Linked DNA regions of Homo sapiens. The protein of the gene in region 3 interacts with the protein of the main gene of each other region in a biochemical or structural test. Each region holds a gene or a part of one and is shown on either strand. Other genes may lie near its edges.

Region 1 (7,282 bases), on a different chromosome or scaffold from region 3:
TATATGGCTACCAAGTAAAATGCCATTTACCGCTCAAATTCCCTCAGAATGCAACCAGTAAAGGCATGCTCCACCTCCAGTTTCATCTCAAAACAACAGCTGAAACTCTTCTTTTTTAAACTTAAATTTGATCACTTCCCACCTCTGCTCAAAACCCTCCAATGTTTATTCAGAGTAAGCCCAAGTCTTCACATGGCCTCCCAAGATCTGGACCTAAAACAGGGGTCTGAAAATCGGCTCATGGTCCACTGCCTTTATGTACAGCCCACAGCGGTAAGAATAATTTTTACATTGTTGAGTAGTTGGAAAAAATCTAAAAGTAGAGTACCTTGTGACATGTGAAAATTATACAGAGTTCCATCCAATTCTGATGTCCACAAATGAAGATCCACTAGAACACAGCCAGGTTCATCATATGGATGGCTACTTTGTGCTACACCCTTTCTGTATGTCATGTGAAGCCAATCTAAAATAATTATAATCTGGTTCTTTAAACAAAGAGTTTGCAGACTCCTGCCCTAAAGGACCAGTGTATATAAGGAATTAACTTCTCCCTATACATCTACAATGGAAGCACTGAGAAAACAGGCGCTCAAATTATCTGCTAAATTTTCAGGTATAGATGAGGAATCCTGACTGAGAAAAACTATCTGGCCACTAGGCCCAGCCACTGCAGCTTCCCTGCGGTTCATGACCATGGCCAGTATTCTCCCTTCAAAACTTTTACCTGCTTTCCTCTGGGTTCAGGATGCTTCTCCAAAATATCCTAGGCTTGCTTCCTCACCTCCTTCAAGTCTTTACTCAAAAGTCATCTATCAGGTGGGGCCTTCCCTGACCATCCCACTCAAAACTGCACTCCACTCCCATTCCCCTTTTCTGCTCTATTTTTCTTAATCTTCACATCAACCGATTGAGCACATCAATTAATACTTGCTGGTGACTGAGAGAACGTGAGCTCCAGAGAGGCTGGGATTTTTGTCTGTTGTGTTCACCACACCACTTAGAGGAATGCATGCCATATAGTAGATGCTCAACAACAACAAAAAATCACTGAATTGTATTGAAATACAATAGTCCCCTCTTTTCCAAGGTTTTGCTTTCCATGGTTACCCCATGGTCAGCTTCAGTTGGAAAATATTAAATGAAGAATTCCACAAATAATTCCTAAGTTTTAAATTGTGCACTGTTCTGAGTAGCAGGATAAATTCTCATGCCATCCCATTCCGTCCTGCCCCAGAAGTGAAACACGTCTTTGTCCAGCATATCCATGCTGTCTATCCACCTATTGCCCTCTAGCTTATCAGATCCATTGTGATGCTATCACAGTGCCTGAGTTCGAGTCACCCTTAGTTTACTAATAATGGCCCGAAATCATAAGAGTAGTGAAGCTAGCAATTCAGATACGGCAAAGAGAAGCCATAAGCACTACCCTTAAGTAAAAAGGTGAAAGTTTTTGACTTCTTATGGAAAGAAAAAAAAAACTTATACCGAGGTTACTAAGATCTACAGTACGAACAAATCTTCTATCCATGAAAATGTAAACAAGGAAAAAGAAATTCCTGATCGTCTGCTGTCTTGCCTCAAACTGCAAAAGTTGCGACCACAGTTTTAAATGCTTAGTTAAGGTGGCAACGGTATTACATTTGTGGGTGTAAGAAACGAGCAGACACATGTTCCAATTGACAGCAATTGGGTTTGGTACTACCCACAGTTTCGGGATCCACTGGGGAGTCTTGGAATGTATCCCCTACAGCTAAAGTGGGACTACTGTATATGCAAGGATACACTTCCCCATTAACAGCAACCATGATGCATTATGCCAGCATAATCGACAATACCAACCAAAACTATACAAGGGAATGGAATATTATTTAGTAACCATCCTTAACCAAACTACTGTTTAATAAACTTATTGATTTCATCATTCAGCCTTCAATGAGTCTTAAAAATCAAATGATGCCCACTACCAATGTGAAACAAGGTAAGCCTTCTAATTCGTCTTTCACAGAAGTTAACTTCTACAAAACCTAGTCAGCGTTTATCATATATTGTCCTAAAGCTGAAAACAAAATGAAAAATAAGCCACAGTTATTGCCATCGACAAAATTAAACTCAGCTGGGATTTCAACAGACTATCAAATAATTATAGTAAAATTTGTGTAATAAAAGATGTCGATAAGGAATCACACCTTTTCTGTATTACATCTTTTACTATATTACACAAATTATAGTAAAATTTGTGTAATAAAAGATGTCGATAAGGAAGCAACTCATGATCTGGGAAAGCAAAGGAGGAAATATTTAGGTTTGACTTTATAAAATAAAAAGGCTTTCCAGGCAAAATGCATAATGGGCACCCAGCGATGAAGGCTCAGTAAGCATGTGAAGTGCTACCGAACAACGAAAGGTTCTGGAAGGCAGTGTCCCGAGGGTGTGAGCAGGAAAAGGTACAGGAGATAAAGTGAGGAGTCTGTAAAAATAAACAGAAACTGCAGGAAATGCAAACTCACAGAAGGTTTTAAGTAACCGGACTACTGACAATTTAGGCCTTCCTCTCAGGGTGGAGGCACCGAGGAATATAACCTTGTAGTGCTACACCAAAGGAAGATCCCTGAAGACCAAACGGAAAATAAATTATGTTTGAAGTAAGGCAAGCTAAGTGTTGAAATTCTAGGAGTGAAAATAATTTAAGCTGGAAAGTTCCTGAAAAGCCATTAATAAAATACACTTTCATTTTTCATGGGCCAAAGTTATATAGGGACCTCCAGGTCTCCTTTGCTTGGCTTTTACAATCAAGAAACCCGAAACCGTAAAACTTCATCTCCCTTTAACTCAGATCCCTATCTAAGCATGGGCTAAGGAAACTAGCAAACAAAACAATGTTGTCATAGGACTCAGGAGGCCCCTAAGAGACCACATCAGTCCGACAACCTCCAGGCCTACCTGGGCCCATTGGAGGGGAACGAGAGGGATTCTAGTAGTCGCAAAGAAAGTACCTTGGCTTGTAGGGGCTGTGGCTGCAGATGCCAAGAGCCCCGGATATATGGCAGGCGCGAGGGGACCCAGGTTTAGCGGGCAGGCTGGGCGGGTGCACGGGGCGGATGGGGAACAGGGGCGCTGCGGCACACTCCTAGAACACCCTAGGCCTCCCAGTCCCTGGCCTCCTCCCCCTCATGGTTCCTAGGCCGGCGGCACAACCTACAGCGCACAAGCCCGATCCAACTCTCCAGAGGACGTCAGAACATGAGTAAGTCGGCGCCCTCTTACCCAGACACACAAACAGCACGGACTTGGTAGCCTGTTCCGCCATCTTCCCGCGCGCAGAGGCGCCGAGACACCGCGGCGTTCCGCACGCCGACGCGGCGCAGGCGCACTGCCACCCTCTTGCCCCGCGCGCCTGCGCAGTCCCGCACCAACGCCAACAGGGCAGCGCGTGTGAGAGCCACGCCTGCGCAATCGGCTCCAGTGCGCCTGCGGAGGCGGTCCTATGACGGTAGTAGGACGGGCGGGGAGGGTCCGCGGGTCACCTGCAGGGACTGGGCCGCCGTTCACCTGCAGGGGCGGGGCTGCAGGTTGTCCGGAGGAGGAGGAGCTGCGGGGGTGGGGTCACCTGGAGGGAGTAGGGCCGCGGAAGGCGAGGGGGTGTGTGTGTGTGGTGGCGGGGGTTGGCGGGGGGGAGTCACCTGGAGGGGGCGGGGCTGCGGGTCGCTTGGAGGGGAAGGAGCCGCGGGAGGTAAAGGTTACCTATAGGGGACGGGGCCGCAGGAGAGGGGTACCTGGAGGAGGAAGGGCCGCGGGTCACCTGCAGGGCGGGCTCAGGCCTCGCGGCTCCGCGGGCCGCCCACCTGGGTTGGGGCACAGCGCGAGTCTCGCGCACGTGGCGGGCTGTGGTGCCTGTCGTTCGAGTTCGCATAGAGGGGCTGGGCGGGTCACGCGGGGAACCTGCCTTGAGCCCCGCGGGGTCCACGCCGGACCAGGGCGGCCTTGGGCCTGGGCGCTCCCTGAGACCCCCACCCCCAACACCGTGCTTGGAGCCGCCGCGGGGCTCTGGGCTTTTCGATCTTGAGGACGGGGCGGTTCCGAAGTCCCTGAGGGCGAAGGCCTGAGCGCGGCCCGGCGGGCGCGTGGTTTTTGTCCCGCGAAACGTACACGGCGGGTGTTTTGCGCCGCCTCCTTCGTCACCTGCCGCAGGTACGCCCTCGCTGGGGCCTCCTTGTCCGCGGGGCGGGGCAGCGCGCCTTCCTCTTCCTGGGCAGCCTCGGGACGGGGCGCCGCGGCCGGGCGGGCAGCAGTGAGTACCCGGGGACCCACCTGTCCGGCAGCACCCTCCCCTCTCAAGAGCTGGGCGGTGGTGGGAGGAGGAGGACGGGAAAACCGGCGATGCCTCTGGGGTTTCTAGGTCGCGCGTCTGTTAACCGCAAACCGCCCAAAGTTAAGATAGAGCAGCTTCCAGGACTTTCTTGACCACAGCGATTTTGATTGAAGTTTAGCCACCGTCTTTTCCATTTTTAGAAAAGCTATTCCGAAGTTTGGAATGATGACGATGGTCGTGTTATTTTTAACTTCCTGATATTTGAACGGCGAGGTGTCAGCGACCATCCTTCCGTTCCACAGAAGCGTCTCTGAAGTTTGGGTCGAATGCGCGCGCTTGGAATGTGCGTGGAACCCGCGGCAGGCGCGGGGAGGAGGCCTTGGCTAGGGCGCCGGCGAGGTTCGAGTTTGCCAGCCCCCCAACCTGGAAGAGAAGGGCCAGCCCCTCACACCCGGAAGGGAAGGGCCGGTCCCCCCAACACCTGGCGCCGGGGTCGCGGGGCCACAGGGCGAGCGCGGGGTCGCGGCGAGCACGGGTCCTCTCTGATCGCTGGGCCTTGGCGCTGGCTGCTGAGTTTTTCCTTCTTTAAGGAAGTGTGGAACTGGTCTCAATCGGTTGACCACCTTAAGGAAATAGGATTTACACTGTGGACAGAGATGTGTCCTTTACACTTCATTTGAACCAATATGCCCATGCTCCTGTGGAGGCTGAGTTGGAAAGTGACACGAAGCTGCCCCCCCGCAAGAGAGCAGGTGCTCGGTTTCTCTTCTGCTTACAGGAGATGCATGTCCTGATTTCTTGTTCTCCTAGGTGTTTTTATTGAGATGTAGGGAATATCTGAATTCATAACGACTTAGAAAATCTGTACACACAGTTGAGAGAACAGGTCTCGAGGCTAAGGTGCTGTTTACTCCCGTGGGCTGGCCTGTTATTAAAATACTTGTGCAGCGACTGATGTTTACAAATTACTATGTTGGAGGTTAAAATGATCAAAGTGATAACCTCCATCCTGTCTATCATGTTTGAGGAGAATTGGTTATTTGGTTCACTAATGTTCTGTTTAAAGAAAATTTCTGTAAAACTAGTAAATGTTACCCCTCATCTTTTGTAAGTTAAAAAAAAGTTTAAAATAATGTTTGCTCATCAAAAGTGATTTGATACTTTTGTTCTGTTTAGGAAAACTTTATTCTCAAGAGATTTCTCATTCCGCAGAAATAAGGATCTGGCATGTCAACACAAACATAGGAAGTTGAGGCAGTCAAAGGGAAATAACTGCTACCCTGACTCTGCTGAGAGCCTCACAAGTCCCTGTGCACGCCAGCTTGTTTGCCAGTGAGTGGCGTCATGATAAGACAAAATTCTCTGCTCTGAGACCTAAGCACATGAAGTTTTTAAAAAAATTTTCTCTGAGAAGATCCCATTTTTTACTCTAAAAGATCAGACCAGTGTGGCATGTGTGGAACTGCTCTGTACCAAGATCACACTCTTCAGTTGGAGAAGAGGAAGGGCAGGAATAAATAAAGGGCTTTCCTGTCTCCCGAGGGAGCAGAGAAAGCTTTCGCTGTCCTCTTCCTTCCCCAGCCACAGCCTGGGGTTGGGGGACTGGAAACAAGCTCAGGCTAGCACTTGATGTTCAGACGGTAGTCTGAAAGTTTGACTAGGGAGTTAATGATCTGACCAGAGAGACAGGTTTTTATTTTGAGAACTGACAAGCTTTGTGTCCTTAAAACAAAGGAAGTAGTTAAACCAAGGCCCCAGAAAGGTAAGAATTGACTTAAGAAACAAAGGCCATAGTTGTCAAGCAGTGGAGTTCAAAATGCAGTTTTGTTAATAAAAGTAGCTTAAAGCAACATTTGAAAGCCTCTCTAAAGATTAGATACATACACTTTCTTTTGGCTAAGATTTCTTTAGTTTATTCTAAATATACCTTTAGCAGCATTCAAGTTCCTTTGATCTTAGATGGAATTTTATCAGTTTAATGAGTTAACCTCCATTTCACATAAAGTATAAGGTTTAATAATTTGATTAATATGTAATCAGTAAGAACTTGGAAAACCAAATTTAGTAAGCTTGCTTTCCTGTAAGTATTCCTTTCATAATTAGAGTCCATTGAAGAAAATAATATAAGGGAAGCAAAAGTTTGGGAATCTGAACTCTGGTAAGGAAAGTGGTGGAGAGGGGCCCTTGGGTCTTCTTGCTTTCATTCCTGACCCTCCGTGTACAACTAGATTGGAAACCGTAGTCAGCTTTGTCACCTCAGGTGGCAATTTACTCCGAGTAGGATTCTCATGTCCCTGTTTGTCCCCAGTGACTCTAGCATTGAGTTTATAGAACTGCGATCAATACCTAAAATTATTTCCAGATCTTAAGCTGATTTATGCTTTTGAGGTTTCCAAAGTAAAAATTGTCTTTCCGGTATTTTATAAGACCTTCTAATTTAAAAAAAAAATGTGTTACTATGAAAATTTAAAACATTTTAACTTTTGTTTTAAAGAAAACTTTATTTGAAAGTTTCTTAGCTTGAGGTTTGGCAGCCACTCTTTTTTTAGAAAAAACTTAAATATTTATAGAGATTTTGCCTGATTCAAGGGACTTAAGACGTTTATGAGAGTGCAGATGCTAACCATGATGTGAGGTTTAAGAGGCTTCATTAGTAATGACCTGTGTCTTCATCAGTATGATAGAATGGGACATCAGCACTCTGATCAGGTCATGCTCTATATGCCTTATGGTACAGCAGAGGAAAAATGGGTGAGCCATCATTTGATGCTGAGGATGGGATTTGAGGCTTATGTCTAAATTTTTATTTGCATATTCTTTTTGTTCTGACAGAGAAATTCACTGCATGTAACTATGACCACGCATGATTTTATCAGAAGTTGATTAGAATCTGTAACATTTTCTGTAGTTCAGCTGACACACTGAAGATGTCCTCACTGTGACCAGCCTTGTCAACAGCTGGATCACAGT
Region 2 (2,574 bases), on a different chromosome or scaffold from region 3:
TTTCAAGGAAAAGGAGCATGGGACATGTTGAGATTTTTGGTATCAGTGTTAAACGGTGATTGAAGCCACATAGGTTAGCAGCCCCCATAGAAATAACTGCCTTTTGTAGCTTGGAACTACTAAGCAGACATCTTTTAAGCCCTTAGCATTTTTTTTTCCTGTATTTTATACATTAGAGGAATAGCATAAAGTGTTGCTCTTGGAATCTAGGGCTTTCCTTACTGTGGGAACACCTCCTTGGGTTCCTGTCTCACTCACTTTGATTACCAATGTCATTCTGCCACGTATGTTCCATATGTCCTATCTATCTGCCCTGCACAATTATGAGAGGGAAGGAATTATTGCATTTATAAAATCCTTTTCAAAAGAGGCCATTAGCAAAAATACTAATCTAAAGCTTCAGCTTCTCCCTGGGCCTTGCTCTGATGCTAAGGTTTAAACTGCCCCTGAAGGAGGAAGAAAATAAATAAATTAAATGCTTAGCTCTTTTAGACAGAAGTAATCAATTATGCAAGATATCCCTTGGTTTTATTTTAACTTAACCTTTGTGAATACTTCACAAAAATACACATACAGAAGTAAATAAAACTATACAGTTGAACTAAATATCCAGCAGATACAACAAGTAGTCAGAAGTTCAAAGATGGATAAGTTAGGCAGCTGATGAGGTTGTCTGCATAATCAAAGGGGTAGCACAAATAATGAACAAATAACTTTTAACAAAAGCATTCTAGTTAACATAAAAGAAATTGGTAGTCTATAAAATGGTTGAATGGGTAACATGCATTGATCAATACAACAACCAATAATATTTACTGAATTCAAACTATTTACTTGTAAACATTTAACAAAGCATTATGAGATCTAAATACAGTCTTTGACAATTTCAACAAAATAAGTCGTATGTTTAAAAAATAAAGCTGATGAGCAATAGATCATTCTATATATTTTCTTTCAACAGTTCCAGCAAGAGAAATAGCAGAGTATTTTTTAAAAGTATACAGCAAAGATTGTTCCTATTATAATGACAAACTCTGGAAACTGTAAATACAAATAATCATTGAACAGTCAAATGGTCATATTCCTAATCAGGAAGTAGTTACAGTAAGAACAGTCTGCAATCCAGTTATACACAATTGTCAATAAGAATGTGTTTCTTGTCAGTTGATTTCATAGTTCTTTCTCTAAGAGACAGCAAAACTTTGGCAACTGGGTGTACTGAAAATATATTTTGAAAGTTCGAGATATCAAGATACAGTCATAGCATTTCGTTTTGTGAAAGGTGGTCTGTACACCAAGGCTCAGAGGTTGTTAAAGATTGATTCCATGTGGAAATAGTGCAAATATCCTGCACAGATAGCTTACAAGGTTGCTGGCATAGTTATTCACCAGCAGAATCTTGGATTTTGTTTGCATAGCTCACACATCACTGGAATGTGGAAAAGTGTGCTATTTTTTGGCAAGAGCAAAGGAGACATTAAACTGAAGTGAATTACCATGTTGGACATGCTGAATCCATGCAGAACACTGGGGCGAAGGCTGCTACCTGACATCATTGGTTTTTGTATACTGGTTTTGTTTTTGTTGAAGCAGTTCTGTTATAGCCAGAAGCTTTTTCAATACGTGCTAGACAGAGGAAAAATGGTATGAAAATAAATGAAAGCTCGGTCAGCAATTTCAGGATGGGAACCTGGATTTGAAAAAAACTGTATCAAAGCAAAAGGATGCATAAAATATTACCACAATTCCCCTCAAAACATAAGTCTCTATTATTCAGTCATTGGCTGAGTATTTCTGGTCATAACTAAGAGAATTTTTATACCCTAAAGTGAACAGAAATTTGTTTGTGTTTGGCATGCTCCTATTTTTTAGGCCAGAACTATCACACTATCACATGTTGTCAGAAGCAGTTTATCTCTCTTTTAAAAAAGGCTTTTTTTATTTAATATCTAAGGCAAGTCAAGTCATATTATTAGTTTTGAAAGCTGCGGGGGGAGGGGCGGGGAGAAACAGGACTTGAGGATTCTAGAATCTCAGGTTGTAGAGAACTCAGTCACCAAACTCAATGCTTTAATCCCTTCTACAAAATCCCTGCCAAATGGTTAGCCAGTGCGGTGACAGCATTCACTATCTCCTGAAACTACATTAGAAACTAGTCAAAACTGTCCCTGTGGTCACTTCCTCTCAGTAGCCCTTATGTCAGCTGAGGACATTCAAAGTGTAACTCATTTTGTTCTATATCTCCAATATCTTAATTGACCTGGTATTAAGTCCCTTCAAATTCTGGTCTGGTCTTTGAATACATCCTTATCTGTATCTGTTTGGTGCAGATGGCAGATAGAAGTCTATCAATGTAGTCTACTGTTTCTCAAAGTGTAGGCCATGGTTCACTTGCATCGGAATACCTATAAATTCCTCTAAGAGTTTGTTAGACGTGCAGCTTTCAAGGCCACACTTCAGAACCTCTGGATGTGAAATTTGACAAACATCCCAAATAATAATCATTTGTTTCACAGTTTGAGAATCACTTTGGCCATGCACTATATCTGTATGTGACAGAGAAAAGACAAGACA
Region 3 (6,550 bases):
CTGCCCCAGCCCAGCTGAGTTATCAGCATTTCTGGGATTGAAAGAGAAACCCTCAAGGGCACCCAGAGTTGGCTGAACTGTCATGCCTAAAGGCAGATGCTGTCCCCTTCTGAGCTCACAGAAATTATTTGGTGTCACACTTTAGAGCCACCTAGGGGTTCTACAGAAGGTGCAAACCAGGCTGGCTTGCACTTTTAAATACTGAGACCTATCTATGGAAACCAATCCAAGTTTCAGCTCAGTTGAGTTGAAAACTCTCCATAAATTAGAATTTTTGATAGGATTGGATACAACAGCTTCCAACAACTTCCAGGGGGTGAAAAAGCTTTGGTTATTTTTAAACTAAAACTTAACAACTCCATCAACTTTTTTTTGGTAAACTTAAAATAAAATCCCCCCCACCACTTTTAAGAATGTTTCCAACTTTTAACAAGCCCATTAACTTTAGAGTTAATTTAAGTTTATTTGAAAGAGAAAACTATTTTATGGTCCACCCAAAAAAATGACAATTCATCACATTTACTTTGATTAAAAAAGGACTAAACTTTATTGACAAACTGCTGCAGACATTTTGACATAAGTTTAAGCTACCTATTTAGGCAGACTTACACATGTAGCATTTAATCTTCCGAGAACAAAATGGGAGGACGGTACAAATCCAATTAGGACTTTAACTTATGTACAAAGTGGATTTTGATTCCTTTTTCATTCAGCTGCAGTGTCCCTTTTTATATCATGCTAGTGTTGAGACATACTTGACTAACTTGGGAACAGTTCGATATATTGACAACCGTCAACTTAAGAAAATCAACAGCTTTTGGCCCCAGCGTCCAAGTGAACTTTTCATGGAGTGCAGAATCTCAAATGGACAAAATACTTTGTCTTTTTAAATACTGAAAATTTAATTATTAGTACTATGACTGAAAGATTCTTCATGGCTAAAAAGCTCTGCATCAAACTCAATTCAGGAGGCCTTCCCTCCCCACCACCATCAACCTCTTCAAAACCTACTCCCTCCCTCTAAGTATCTCTCAACACAGTATGTCTGGGGCTAGATTTCAAAACCCACGTAATGAAAAAGTCAGTTTTACAAGCCTAATTTTGTTGTTTTTTTTTTTATATCAATTAACGTTAAAAATTGCATCAACTATTTAATTCATGAGGATCTTTCATATTAAAATTTAACCTTAAGATTCAACCGCCATGTGCTTTTATAAAGGAAACATTTTTTAGAGACGTCTGAGCTCACTTTTACATGGTGGTGCCTACTGCCGTTAATGTTTGTGATTTTAAATCTTAAACAGCCCTGAATTTTGAAATGTAGCCTAGTTTGGGATTCTGCAACTACAACTTTACGGGATGCCTCAAATCAAAACTAAGAGAAACTTAACAAGCCTTTACTTCAGAACCTTTAAGCAAGCAATGTCATTTTTGAAACTAACAGGTTTGTGTGTTTTTTTTTTTTACTCAACTTCTTTTTTTTATTATAAAAGGTACACTTCTGTTTATATTTAAACAACAAAGAAAAAAGCATCTACACACTTAAAAAATTAATTCAATATTCCTAAATCTATTTTAACTCATTTTAAAATACTACATACAGAAGCCAGAATGCAGAGTTAAGAATGGAATAAGGTGGGGAGAAGAAGGGGACCACGAAGAAAAACACTTAGACAATTACTTGTCTGTTGTGGGTAAAGCAACAGGAATCCTGGGAGATACAAGAAATCAGTAACAACTTTGCTCATAACTGATATTTTCCCCTCATGTTTGTTTTTAATAACGTCCATATGGGTGCTCTCTGTATGCTCCCTTCACTGGCCTAGCAGGAGGGGCCTTCAGCGACGGCCTGGTCCCATTCCAGTCGTCCTGGCCTGTGGGGAAAACAAAGACAGTTTATAAACCATGTGGCGACAGCACTTAGGGATAAGCAGGGATAGGTCACATAGTAAAGATCACCAAAAACACTGAGTTTCTTCTAATGTCTTGACACTTCCCCTGGTGTTCCTTGCTCTCTACTTGGCTTGGCCCTCTTGGGCAGCCTGGGCAATTTTTCAGTTTTGAGTGGAAGGACAGAAGGGAACAAATCTAAAAAGGCTGCCATTGACTCTGGAGTAATCTCCCACAACGAGGTTCTTCATAGACAAATGTGATCTGTACGCCAGTCCCCAAACCTGGAGATACCCAACACCTTGCTTGAGATAGTGAGGAACTCATTAATCTTAGTGAGTCTGCAATGGCCTTTCCTGTTCCCAAAACAATTTGGCAGGCACCCTCAGGTAAGGTGGGAAGACTTCTGGAAGTCTTTCAGATTGGAAGCAGGCAGCCAGCCCCACTTCCATGCAACAGCAAGTCACGTTTCCTTACGGAGAAGTGTCCTCTAGCTCCCTGGGAAAACCAAGCAAGGGCCACTTTCCATGGGGCCCTCCACCAGCAGAGCTGATACTGCTCTCTCTGGTAGAGGGATGTGCAATCAAATGTTGCACTGACAGCACTGTTTAAGATAATTCCAAGGCTGCATGCGGTGGCTCACGCCCGTAATCCCAGCACTTTGGGAGGCCAAGGCAGGCAGATCACAAGGTCAGGAGTTCGAGACCAGCCTGACCAACAGGGTGAAACCCCATCTCTACTAAAAATACAAAAATTAGCCAGGCGTGGTGGCGCATGCCTGTAATCCCAGCTACTCAGGAGGCTGAGGCAGGAGAAGTGCTTGAACCTGGGAGGCAGAGGTTGCAGTGAGCTGAGATTGTGCCACTCCACTCCAGCCTGGACAACAGAGCCAGACTCCATCTCAAAAAAAAAAAAAAAAAAAAAAAAGGATAATTCCTTATCTCCTTTCTTAAGTCAACAGGTGAGAGAAGCCAGAAGCCAGACAATGTGGTTCACATCCTCAAATGGTTCTCCTTTGTGACAGGGAAAAGCCTGAGGAATATGATCACATAATTCTAGAGGTGACCTCTTATGAAAATAAATTGCGTTAAATTTATTCTTCCCACACCTTACACACGCTAGTTCATCCCTGAAGTATTTTTCCAGCTGCCTGTATTCACAAGTATCTGCCTCCATCTCTATAGGCCTCAAACTCCTATACAGATCTAAAGTCACACAGAACCCTAATTATACCCCTAGTATAACACACATGTCCATCACTTTCCAAGTGGCTTCTGGGTATCAACAAGACAGTTTCTTTTTCTTTTTTTCCTGACGTATACAGATCATCCTGGACAGTTTATTTCTCTAATTCTGTTAATCAAAGCAGAGATCAGAACGGATTAACTGTGGCAACGTCGTATCAGGAGCACAAAGAGAAGCCTGCCTCTTTCAGTTTGGTCTTTTCTCCAGCAAAACAGAAATGCAATTTAGTCAAACACATACAGAGGCCCCACTGTACTGCCTCACTGATGGAGGGAAATACTTGGGTGCAATCACACACAGTGTTAGTGATTGGCAACTGTCCAGTGCTATTTCGCTAAAACTGGTAAAAACAGTTTCCTTGGGCAAGCAGCTGATTGGCTACTTCATACTGTGCTGAGTTGGGCTCAGCTTGTCTGTCTCTGGGAGGCCCTAAGGGGCTCCTCTTTTTCAGCTAGGGATAAGGGGAGACTGTCAACCAGTATCTTAGCGTGAACTGTCAATCGCTGAGCCCCTGCCAAGGACTCTCTGGAAGTCCCTCAGGTATGCTGAAAATACCTTATACTGAAAAGGTAGCTCTCGCTGCATCCACTGCCACATAGTATTCCCAGTGAGGCCTATTAACACAGGGCCATAACTGGCTCTTGAGGACACACTTGAGCGATGTGTTTTTAACCAAACCTCAGGGAAGGCAGCCTTGTCCTGCTGCTGTTGCAGCCTCCATAGCTCTCTTGGGATCAAGGACTGTGTTGATGTCTTCAAGCCAACAAGGAGCTTGGTGCCAGTACTGTCCTGAATTATTGGCTCTAGCCCCTACAGCCTCTAATCTGATTCTAATAGGCACTATTTTTTTTTTTTGAGACGGACTTTTGTTGCCCAGGCTGGAGTGCAATGGCACGGTCTCAGCTCGTTGCAACCTCCGCCTCCCAGGTTCAAGTGATTCTCATGCCTCAGCCTCCCAAGTAGCTGAGATTAAAGGCGCCCACCACCACACCTGGCTAATTTTTTTGTATTTTTAGTAGAGACAGGGTTTCACCATCTTGGCCAGGCTGGTCTCGAACTCCTGACCACAGGTGATCCGCCTGCCTCGGCCTCGCAAAGTGTTGGGATTACAGGCATGAGCCACCACGCCCGGCCCTAATAGGCACTATTCTTGCCCCGCAACCTGGTCTGGCTAGCTGCTTGCCATCTAGGTCCCTTTCAGCTGACATTTCCTTTACAATGACATTCTTTTCAATGAGATCTAAATTTTTTTTTTAATGAAATGGGGTAGATGAGTACAGTTGTGTACGATTAAGTTCTTGTTATCTACCAAAGTGGCCTAGATATCGGCAGCAAAGGCCCAGAAATACAACCCAGGTCTAGCTATTTCCCTGCCTAAAGTAGAAAAAAAATAACATTAGCTTATAAGTCTGCTGCTCCAACCAGGGCCAAGCTGGTCTTGAGCCCTTGTTTAAGACAAACACTACCCTTCCAAGAGTAACGATACCCCACCTCACTTTAGCAGTCCCTCTTTCTACCATGTACCGCAAAATTTAAGCAAGAGCAGAACTCTTACTGTCACATCTAGCAAAATCTTGGCCTTCTAAAGGTTTATCCGTAGGTGTGTTTGTCTGACTCTCAATACTTTAGTCACCAGCATTCTCCCAGGCACTTACTTGTACATTCTGCCCCACCACAGAGATAAAGACATACCATAAGCTTCATAAGAATCTTGAACCTCCCCATGTCCATAGTCATAATATTCTGAGTCCCTGAAAGCCAAAGGCAGAGTGTTAGGAAGCTACAGAGTAACTATGTTTCAACTTTCTCTCAAATACTTCCATAAGTCAGTCATTTTACTAAGTGTATTAATACAGGAAAATACTCATTCTGCCCCATCCCTAAACCGTAAAGTATTTCCAAAATATGTATAGACTATGTACTTATAAAATAATTGACAACTATTGCAAAGAAAAATGGATACCACAGAATATAAAGTGAAAAAGCACAATCCTAAATTGACCCTTTTAATATAGCATATATATACATGTATTCATAGGGCTCACCAGAAGGAAAAAAGAACTGTTTTATCACTGCTGTAGAATTCTGGAACTCTTTTTCAATCAATTCACAGGTAAGCTATATATATGGACACACAAGGAAATGGTCTTAAAGAGAAATGCAGAAAAGAACCTAAGTTATGGTAATGGAATTCAAGTTTCTTGTAAAATTTTATGGAGCTTTAATGTGGTTTTGATATTTTAAAATAATAAATCAAAATAACATAAAGGCATTTCTCCTTGTTTCCATGTAGTCACAGCTTGGAAATTTTTCATTTGTTACTCTCAGGTTCTAAATTATAATTTAAGGTTCACAGTTATCCAGATTTACAAATCCAAGTGTGTGCTTCACAGATGTCAAACGCAGAGGAAAGCATTGCATGGTGGCACGCACCTGTAACCCCAGCTACTAGAGAGAGCTAAAGTGGGAGGACTGCTTGAGCTCAAGAGTTCAAGACCAGTCAGGACTGTGGGGGTTGCAGAGGAGATACCCTCAAAAGGCGAACCATTCTGCTCCTTAGGGTTGTACTGTCTAAATCTCTCTGTTCCTCCAACTCCCTCCATCCATCCTCAGGACAAAAAACAGTGCTTATACTGCCTGACTCACCCTTGACTCTGGCTGTAATAGCCTTCGTAGCCTTCGTAACTTTGTTCTGCGTATGTATCATCATATCCCTAGAACAACAACAACAAAAAAATGAAATAAAAGATCAAAATCATAGAGAGTAGGAAAGGTAATTACATCCCATGGGAGTAAGTAGGCTTCTGAATTAAAAGGACATGACATTTCCCTCCAAAATGTTAATGCCTACTGTAGAATAGTCAAAAGAGAAAGGGTTACTAAACAAAGAAAACCCAAACAAATATGATATGCCACAGAAGAAGTGTGGGCAGGAAGTAAAGTACAAAATCGAGCTTTAGTATTATCAGTACTAGTAGTAAGAAATTCATTATAAAATACTACATTAAAGTACATTTTATTTCTTGTTTAATCTACAGGCGTATAGTAAAACCCTGCCTAAAATGGAAAAATCTTCTAATAGTTCAACATTCACTGCAAGAGAAGAGGGCAGATTGCAAATCTTACAGGCAGTCCATGACACCTACATAAAGGACCGAGGCCCTGTCATTCAACTTCCTTTAGCAGCCTTCTAGGTACTGGGAAATGGCACATTGTTCAAATTTCTTACATATTCTTCATATGTTTCTGGTGCAGGAGGTGGAGGCAAAGGTATCCTCTGGATGCCCGCTGTCCGTGCTCTTGGTGCTGGAGCACCCCTCACAGTAGGTGGGGGTGGCACGCCTCGAGTCACAGTGGCACCTCTGGTGATGGCTCCCCTTACTGGTGTACCACGTACCAAAGCCCCCCGAGGTGG
Region 4 (7,040 bases), on a different chromosome or scaffold from region 3:
CGTGCTGCACCCATTGCCTGTGTTCTGGAAACCCTCTACACTGGAGGAGCAAGCCTCCTTCCAGCCTTTCCTCTGCTGATGGTGAATTCTGAGTCTGTGGTTTGGTAAATTGCAGAGCAGAGAGGTTTTACGGGATGTGCGTGTTAGCCAGAGCTAGCCGATGAGAGGCCTGGGGCCCACGCAGGAGGAGCTCTGCTGGCTCCAGAGTGCTGGGAACACACTGCAAAGGTTCTCTCAGGACATTCTGCAAAGGGTTTGCTCATCCCCACGGGGAGGGGGAGCTGCCTGAACACGAAGGGTCCTGTGCTTTCGGTCAGTTCATGAAGGCACGCAAGTAGCTTCCATCATGGGGATGGCACTCAGCCCTGGCTTCCTTCTTCTCTGCCAGGCCCCTGCTTGGGGTGGGGTTGAGAAGGGCAGGCAGCTGCTACTAAGGTCAGGCTCCCTGGCATGAAGCTAGGCTCCTTTCCTGGCTTTCTGAGCTGTGCCTGGGGAGACCCTAGGTAAACTGGCTTTGGCCTCTGACCGCTTGTCTTGAAAATGGTCCTGATGATGCTGGATGCAGAATGCAGATTCCTTCGTTTGAAAGTTTTTCAGTAAAGATTTGAATTCAGGTCCACCGGGTTCTTTGTGCTCACAGGCAGGTATAGGTATATATCAATTCATGTGGTAGAGAAAAGCTCGTTTATCTAAAACAAACAAGAAATTGTATCTATTTGGATTTGGGAGGTATTGCACTTTCACAGTTGTTTTATTTCCTGATTGTTTATTTCAGACAAATACCAATCATGAATGTTCTGATCCTCTGCAGGACTCTTTGGGGAATGCAAATAATAGCCAGTTTAGCAGTTACCATCGATGGTGAAACATACTTAACACTCGTGTTTTCGTGTGATTCCTGCAGGTCATTGAATGTACCCTAATGTGGGGTAGGTTTTTGGATTCTGTTTTACAGATGAATTAACTGCAACTTGGAGCAATTCACCAACTTGCTTAGGGTCTCGCAGCTGGCACAGGGCAGAGCTAGGGCAATGCAGGTCAGGTTAGCTCCAAAGGAGGATGTGGATATAAGGTGGGGCCCTTCTCTTCAATTAGAATCCGGGCAGGAAGGCCAGGCTCAGCCCTGTTCCATGGTGACAGAGCAGTACAGGGTTGTCTTTAGGACTGCCTCACTGTAGAGACATCTACCATGTGCCCTGCAGGTGAGTTCATGGTGGGCAACGCAGGCGGGTCACTGTGAGGCAGGAGGAGTAGAGCAACTTCAGGCTGGTATCTGGTCCCCAGTAATGCTTAGGGTAATAAATTAAGGGTTGACCTTGTGGACATAATATATTCTTCCTCTGTTTAGATCATCCCAGATTTTATTCTTGGTCCTGGGAGCTACATGCTTAGGAATTGGCCCCAAACTCATTCATTTCTGTGCCCTTCTTTTTTTTTTTTTTTCTCAGCCCTTAGATTGTGACTCCAGCCCCACAGGAATGAGAATGTGCAGCCACAGCCTGCAAGGGTCTTTTTCAGGGCCAGTTCCATTATGGAATGAGTATGGTGTTGGGCAGATCAGTGCTTGAATCCTACCTGTGGCACTTCCTAGTTGTGCAACCTTGGGCTGTCACTCTGAGCCTCAGTCTCCTCACCTGTAACTTCACAGGGCTCTTGGGAAGTTGGCCTGAGATAATTTGGGGTAGTGTCTACCCAGTGCCTGACCTCACCATGGACATGCACCATATACTAGTTGCCATCTGCTGTTCCTGATCACCAAGGCACTGCAGGTGATTTAGGACCCAATCGGTCAATCTGAGAGAAAAGGAAAGACTGAGGCAAGAAGGACGGCCCAGCTTTTCACAGTCTGATGGGGAAGTGGGTTACACGCCCCATGGAAAACACCCAGCCTCCAAGAGGAACAGATAAACACAGAGCAGCTGTTCAGACCTGGAGGGGTTCCTGGAGCTGAGCATTGGGATCTGGTGGTGGCTTTCTGGTAAGCTGGGAAGAAACAGAGGTTAGGAGAGAAGGAAAGAGGTTGCTCTGGGTAAGGGCAAGGTCAAATAGGATCCTAGCCCCAAGGTCAGCACCACACATGGGTTAACACTCTTGCCTGCTCTCTCTGTCCCTCTGTCTCTCTTACACATGCACAAGCATGGGAACGGTTTCTTCTCTGGGGAGGGAAGTGATCGAGGGGTGATTCACGGGTCTGACAAGGCTCCCTGCTCATGGAACAACCAACCACACCCTTCAAGGCTGTTGGAACAGGGAGCACAGCCAGCCATTTATCGCAACCCTGTGTTGAGCTGAGTGAGGGCTTTTGGGGGGCAAACCAGGGTAGAAATTACCATGTGTGGTGGCAGGCAGAGGGGAAGGGAAGAGAAGGGAAAAATAAACCTATTTGATGTCAGAGGAGACCGATTCCAGCCCAGAAATACAAGCCCCAGCTGCTGCATTTTCCAAAGAGATATTCCGGGGCCAGCATGAGTTAACTGACCGTGGAGGCTATGAATTAGGGAAGTGTTGTTAGGACTTCTGACTTTGGGTTTGCACAGCAGTTCCCTGTAAATTGCCTTCTAATTGCCTCAGCCTGAGTCACTGACCAGACTATTTCTTGGCCAGAAAAAGTCTAATGGGCAACTGTGTTCTCTTTTACCTCTTAATTAAACAAAATGAAACAAATAATAGAGTTATACACATGGTAGTCCCACTTACTCCTCTCGAGTTCTGAGAATCCAGGAAAGGGATAGTAGATTAGGATAGGGACCCAGGGGACAGGAAGGACAAGGGGTGTGTGTGGGAAATGAGGTGGAGATTCTGGCTTTGGAAATAGGTTCTGAGTGAGGGCCAGAGGTGTTCTCTGCCATGACAATTGCCAAAAATAATGGAAGCGCCCAATAGAGTGATCAGGGCTTCCAGAGGCGGATTCCCAGAGCAGCGTGCTACTTCCTGCCTGGCCCGGGCTTCTGCTGCCTGTAGTGCAGCCAGTCACAGGTGGGCAGGTGAATGGAAGGTCAGGAGCCTAGCTGTGAAGGGGATGGGGGTCACATGAGGATCCCTCTTGTGCCTCTGGGTAACCCCCAGGCAAGTCACCATATCAGCCGCAGAGACTGAGCCCCTGCTGTGTGCATGGTGCCGGTCAGAGTCCAGCAAGGCTGTCCAGACCCCATAAGAAGGGGGAGAACTAACATACAAGCACCTACTATGTGCCAGGCAATGCAGAAGATGCCTTTAGAGGCGATTTTACTTGAACCTCATAACAACCCCATGCGGTTAGGTAGGTGTTTTTATTCCCATTTTATAGATGGGGAAATTGAAGCTCGGAGGGTTCGTATCATTCTACTCAGAGTAATTCTGTGGCAGGGCTGGGATTCTCACCCTGGTCTCTGACACCCACATCTGTGAGTGCCACTTCTTCCCCATCAGAGCTGGCTTGGTGAGAGAGAAAATAACCAGTGAGTCCAGGCAGCACCACCTGGGGATGAGGGGTGCACCTGGGAGGCTGTGTTGTCCCAGAGCACCTGTGTGCCGTATCCCTTGGCTGAGCATTGGGATATCCTGGCCCCACCACTCGCTGCCGTGGGATACAGTGCAAGTTACTTATGTCTCTGAGCCTCAGTTTCCTCATCAGTAAAAAAAAAAAAAAAAAAAAAAAAAAAAAGAATATATGGGGAAAGTTGGACCTAGCTCTTAGGGTTATGATGAAGATGAAATGAGTTTGTAATTGTAAAGAGCTTAGACCGGTACCTGGCGCCTTATGGAGCTCAGCATAAGTATTTGCTTTCACAATCACTAAGTCCTGAAGCTGTTCAGAGGAGGGAGAGCACTCTGTGAACTGGAGTTTCCAGGGAAGACCGACTGGAGAAGGCAGCTTCATGATGGACCTTGAGGTGTAATTAGGATTTGGCTGGGAAAGAGTAGGATTTAGATGGGAAAACTGGGGAAGGGCATTCCAAGAAAGAGAAAAGCAAAGGTGCTGGAGGTGGAACGTGCAAGGAAAAGCTGGGCAAAGCCGAGGGTGGATGAGGGAGAGAAGGATGACAGGAAAGCTCAGGGCCAGCTCTGAGAGGCTCCGATGGCAGCAGAGGGAATTCAGTTTATTCTGTAGACACCTTGGAACCTTCCTTTTCTCCCAAGGGCTTGGCAGGGAGAGGGAGCTAAATAGTCACTTTGAGGTCCTCCCGGTGGGCTCCAGCGCTGTTTTTGCGACTGTGCCTGGAACAGAGCTAAGTAAGGACTGGAACCTTTTTCTAGCTCTGCCTGGGGGACTCTTTAGTTGGCCAGCTGGGTCCCACCCCTCCTGTTTACAGCTCTCACTCCTAGGGGTCTGGCTTCCCCATAAAAAGTTGATTGCACCCAGGCTCCTGGGGAGGAAGGGTTGAGGAGGAGGAGGAGGAGGAGAGGGAGCAGCAGGAAGTGAGGTGTCAGCTGCTTTGGGTCTTAACTAGCTTGGGAGGGCCTGATGCAGCAGCGTTTCAGGTGGAGTAATTTCCATCCACACTCCCCCAGTGGCAAGAGCGAGAATGCGCCCATCCTCGTAGGTTCTGGGGGCCAATACCTCACAGTCTGAGGGGAGCCCAGCATGTCTGTGTCTTCTGAACCATCTACACTAATGTTGCCTTCTACTTCAGGATCTCTCTGAACTTGTTTTAGTTGGTTTTTTTTTTTTTTGAGTTGGGGTCTCGCTCTGTCACCCAGGCTGGAGTGCAGTGGTGCGATCTCGGTTCACTGCAGCCTCCGCCTCCCGGGTTCAAGCGATTCTCGTGCCTTAGCCTCCCAAGTAGCTGGGATTACAGGCATGCACCACCACACGCAGCTAATTTTTGTATTCTTAGTAGAGGTGGGGTTTTGCCATGTTGGCCAGGCTGGTCTCGAACTCCTGACCTCAGGTGATCCACTCGCCTCAGCCTCCCAAAGTGCTGGGATTACAAGTGTGACCCGCTGCGCCTGGCCTGAACTTGTTTTAGTTTTAAATGCAGTGCTTCAGCTGGGCATGGTGGCTCATGACTGTAATCCCAGTGCTTCAAAAGGCCAAAGTGGGGAGGATCACCTGAGGCCAGGAGCTCAGACCAGCCTGGACAATGTAGCAAGACCCCATCTCTACAAAAAAATTAAAAAATAAGCCAGAATAAGCCAGGTGTGGAGGCATGCGCCTGTAGTTCCAGTTACTCAGTCGGCTGAGATGGGAGGATGGCTGGAGCCCAGGAGGTTGAGCCTGCAGTAAACCGTGATCACACCACTGCACTCCAGCCTGGGTGACAGAGTGAGACCCTGTCTCAAAAAAAAAAAAAATTCTAAAAAGCTAGGCATCGTGATGAACACCTGTAGTCTAGCTACCCGGGAGGCTGAAGTGGGAAGATCACTTGAGCCCAGGAATTGGAGGCTGCAGTGAGCTATGATTATGCCACTGCATTCCAGCCTCGGCAACAGCAAGACCCTGTCTCTAAAAACAAATAAGTAAATGCAATGCTTCAAACTACCTCTTCATTTATTTGACCTCTACCACACTCCCAGATAGTCTAGTAAACCTTATTCTTAGGGAAAATGTAACAATAAAAATAACAGCTGACCTTTCTAAATGTTTTCTATGTGCTAAGCATCTCATATGGATGTTCTCAGAACAGCCCCACGCAGCATGTAGCTCCCACCAGCATCCATACTGTACAGGTGACAGCACAAAGGCTCAGAGAGCTCAAATGAATTGCCAGATGCCACGCAGCTGATGAGCTGCATGTGGAGAGGCCTGCACTGACCCAGGTCTGCTGGCTCCAAAGCCTGCCCTGTCCCCACAGAGACCGCTTAATGACACATTACACACCCAGGATGCCTGGGCTCCATGGTTCCACCTTAGGCCTAGTTGGTTGGCTCCTCAAGCCGTGAGATCTTCCACATGTCACCTCCCCCTTCTAGAACTACATTTGCCCATCTAGAAAATGGTGCAACTGTTTCTTTTCAGGCTTGCCTTGCAGAGCGGAGGGCAGGTATAACAGCTGCTTTGGAAAGCACTGAGCCCAGAGATGATAGCTGTGTGAGGAGGTCCCTTGATCCCCCAGTCTGGGTTCTTAATTATCTAGGGCAGGGATGCTATACAAAGTGAGTTGTTCCTGACCCCAGGGAATTTTTAAACAAGGTTCACCTGCCCAGCCACCTCTCCTGAGAAGCCTCATAGACAGAGTCGACTCAGGAGTACTTAGGCTCTTAGTGAAGATCTCTTCTAGAAAACGGCCTCTGGTTTTCCTTCTTTCCAAACCAATCATTTTTTTGTGAACAGGAAAAGACAGAGTTATTCCCAGTCCCATCTCTCCCTGCTGTTACCTGAGCGGAGGAAGTGATATCTAAGTGGCTGAGTTAGCAAAGGGGAAACAGCTGTGGTTTCTGCCACTCCACTGGGCTGCTTTCTCTGTCCCTGTGCTGTCATTTCCCTTTGGCTGGCGAGGAAGCCACCCTCCCCAAGCCTGGGCGGAGGCCCATGGCTGGGTCGGGGTAGACTCTGTGTGTGTGTGTCAATGCAGCATAAATTATGCAGTGGGGCGGGTGGGACAATTTAGCCTGTTTCTGGGATCCCTGGAGCATGAACTTTAGACCTGTTGGAAACTGATCACTCTTACCTGATCTGACCACAACTTCAGGGAGTCAGGAATGGAAGTAATGCCCCATGTTGAGAATGAACTTGCAGGGTGTACCAGGTGGGGTAGGGATTGATGGAGTGTGGGCTGGTTTGCACTTTTGCCTATCACTGTGTGGTCCCTGATGGAGAACCTACGTTGTTTTCCTTTTTTGAGGCGTACTCTCACTAAAGGAGACCTTGGCACGTATTGTATCACCATCATCATCATAGAGCTGTTACAGGAAAGGGGTCCCGATCCAGACCCCCAGAGAGGGTTCTTGGATCTCCAGCAAGAAAGAATTCAGGGCAAGTCCATAGAGTAAAGTGAAGGCAAGTTTATTAAGAAAGTAAAGGAATAAAAGAATGGCTGCTCCATAGACAGAGCAGCCCCGAGGGCCACTGGTTACCCATTTTTATGGTTATTTCCTGATGATATGCTAAACCAGGGGTG

The links.
Region 1: the proteins of KHDRBS1 (region 3) and SH3YL1 interact in a test that uses a peptide from one of them, tested with the Homo sapiens proteins (one study listed by BioGRID).
Region 2: the proteins of KHDRBS1 (region 3) and RASA1 form a complex in vitro, tested with the Homo sapiens proteins (2 studies listed by BioGRID).
Region 4: the proteins of KHDRBS1 (region 3) and SH3PXD2A interact in a test that uses a peptide from one of them, tested with the Homo sapiens proteins (one study listed by BioGRID).

What each region holds. Positions count from the first base shown.
Region 1 is NC_000002.12:260,993-268,274, reverse strand, and holds the start of SH3YL1 (SH3 domain-containing YSC84-like protein 1), read left to right. Parts: upstream 1-4,242; 5' UTR 4,243-4,290; coding exon 4,291-4,291; intron 4,292-5,488; exon of another isoform or gene 5,489-6,074; intron 6,075-7,144; exon of another isoform or gene 7,145-7,282. Other genes in the region: ACP1 (low molecular weight phosphotyrosine protein phosphatase), read right to left, coding at 3,268-3,310.
Region 2 is NC_000005.10:87,389,852-87,392,425, reverse strand, and holds the end of RASA1 (ras GTPase-activating protein 1), read right to left. Parts: exon of another isoform or gene 1,627-2,574; coding exon 1,543-1,626; 3' UTR 510-1,542; downstream 1-509. UniProt on the Homo sapiens protein: Inhibitory regulator of the Ras-cyclic AMP pathway. Stimulates the GTPase of normal but not oncogenic Ras p21; this stimulation may be further increased in the presence of NCK1.
Region 3 is NC_000001.11:32,037,851-32,044,400, reverse strand, and holds the end of KHDRBS1 (KH domain-containing, RNA-binding, signal transduction-associated protein 1), read right to left. Parts: coding exon 6,365-6,550; exon of another isoform or gene 6,282-6,364; intron 5,850-6,281; coding exon 5,782-5,849; intron 4,887-5,781; coding exon 4,828-4,886; intron 1,875-4,827; coding exon 1,777-1,874; 3' UTR 524-1,776; downstream 1-523. UniProt on the Homo sapiens protein: Recruited and tyrosine phosphorylated by several receptor systems, for example the T-cell, leptin and insulin receptors. Once phosphorylated, functions as an adapter protein in signal transduction cascades by binding to SH2 and SH3 domain-containing proteins.
Region 4 is NC_000010.11:103,845,552-103,852,591, reverse strand, and holds part of SH3PXD2A (SH3 and PX domain-containing protein 2A), read left to right. Parts: intron 1-7,040. UniProt on the Homo sapiens protein: Adapter protein involved in invadopodia and podosome formation, extracellular matrix degradation and invasiveness of some cancer cells. Binds matrix metalloproteinases (ADAMs), NADPH oxidases (NOXs) and phosphoinositides.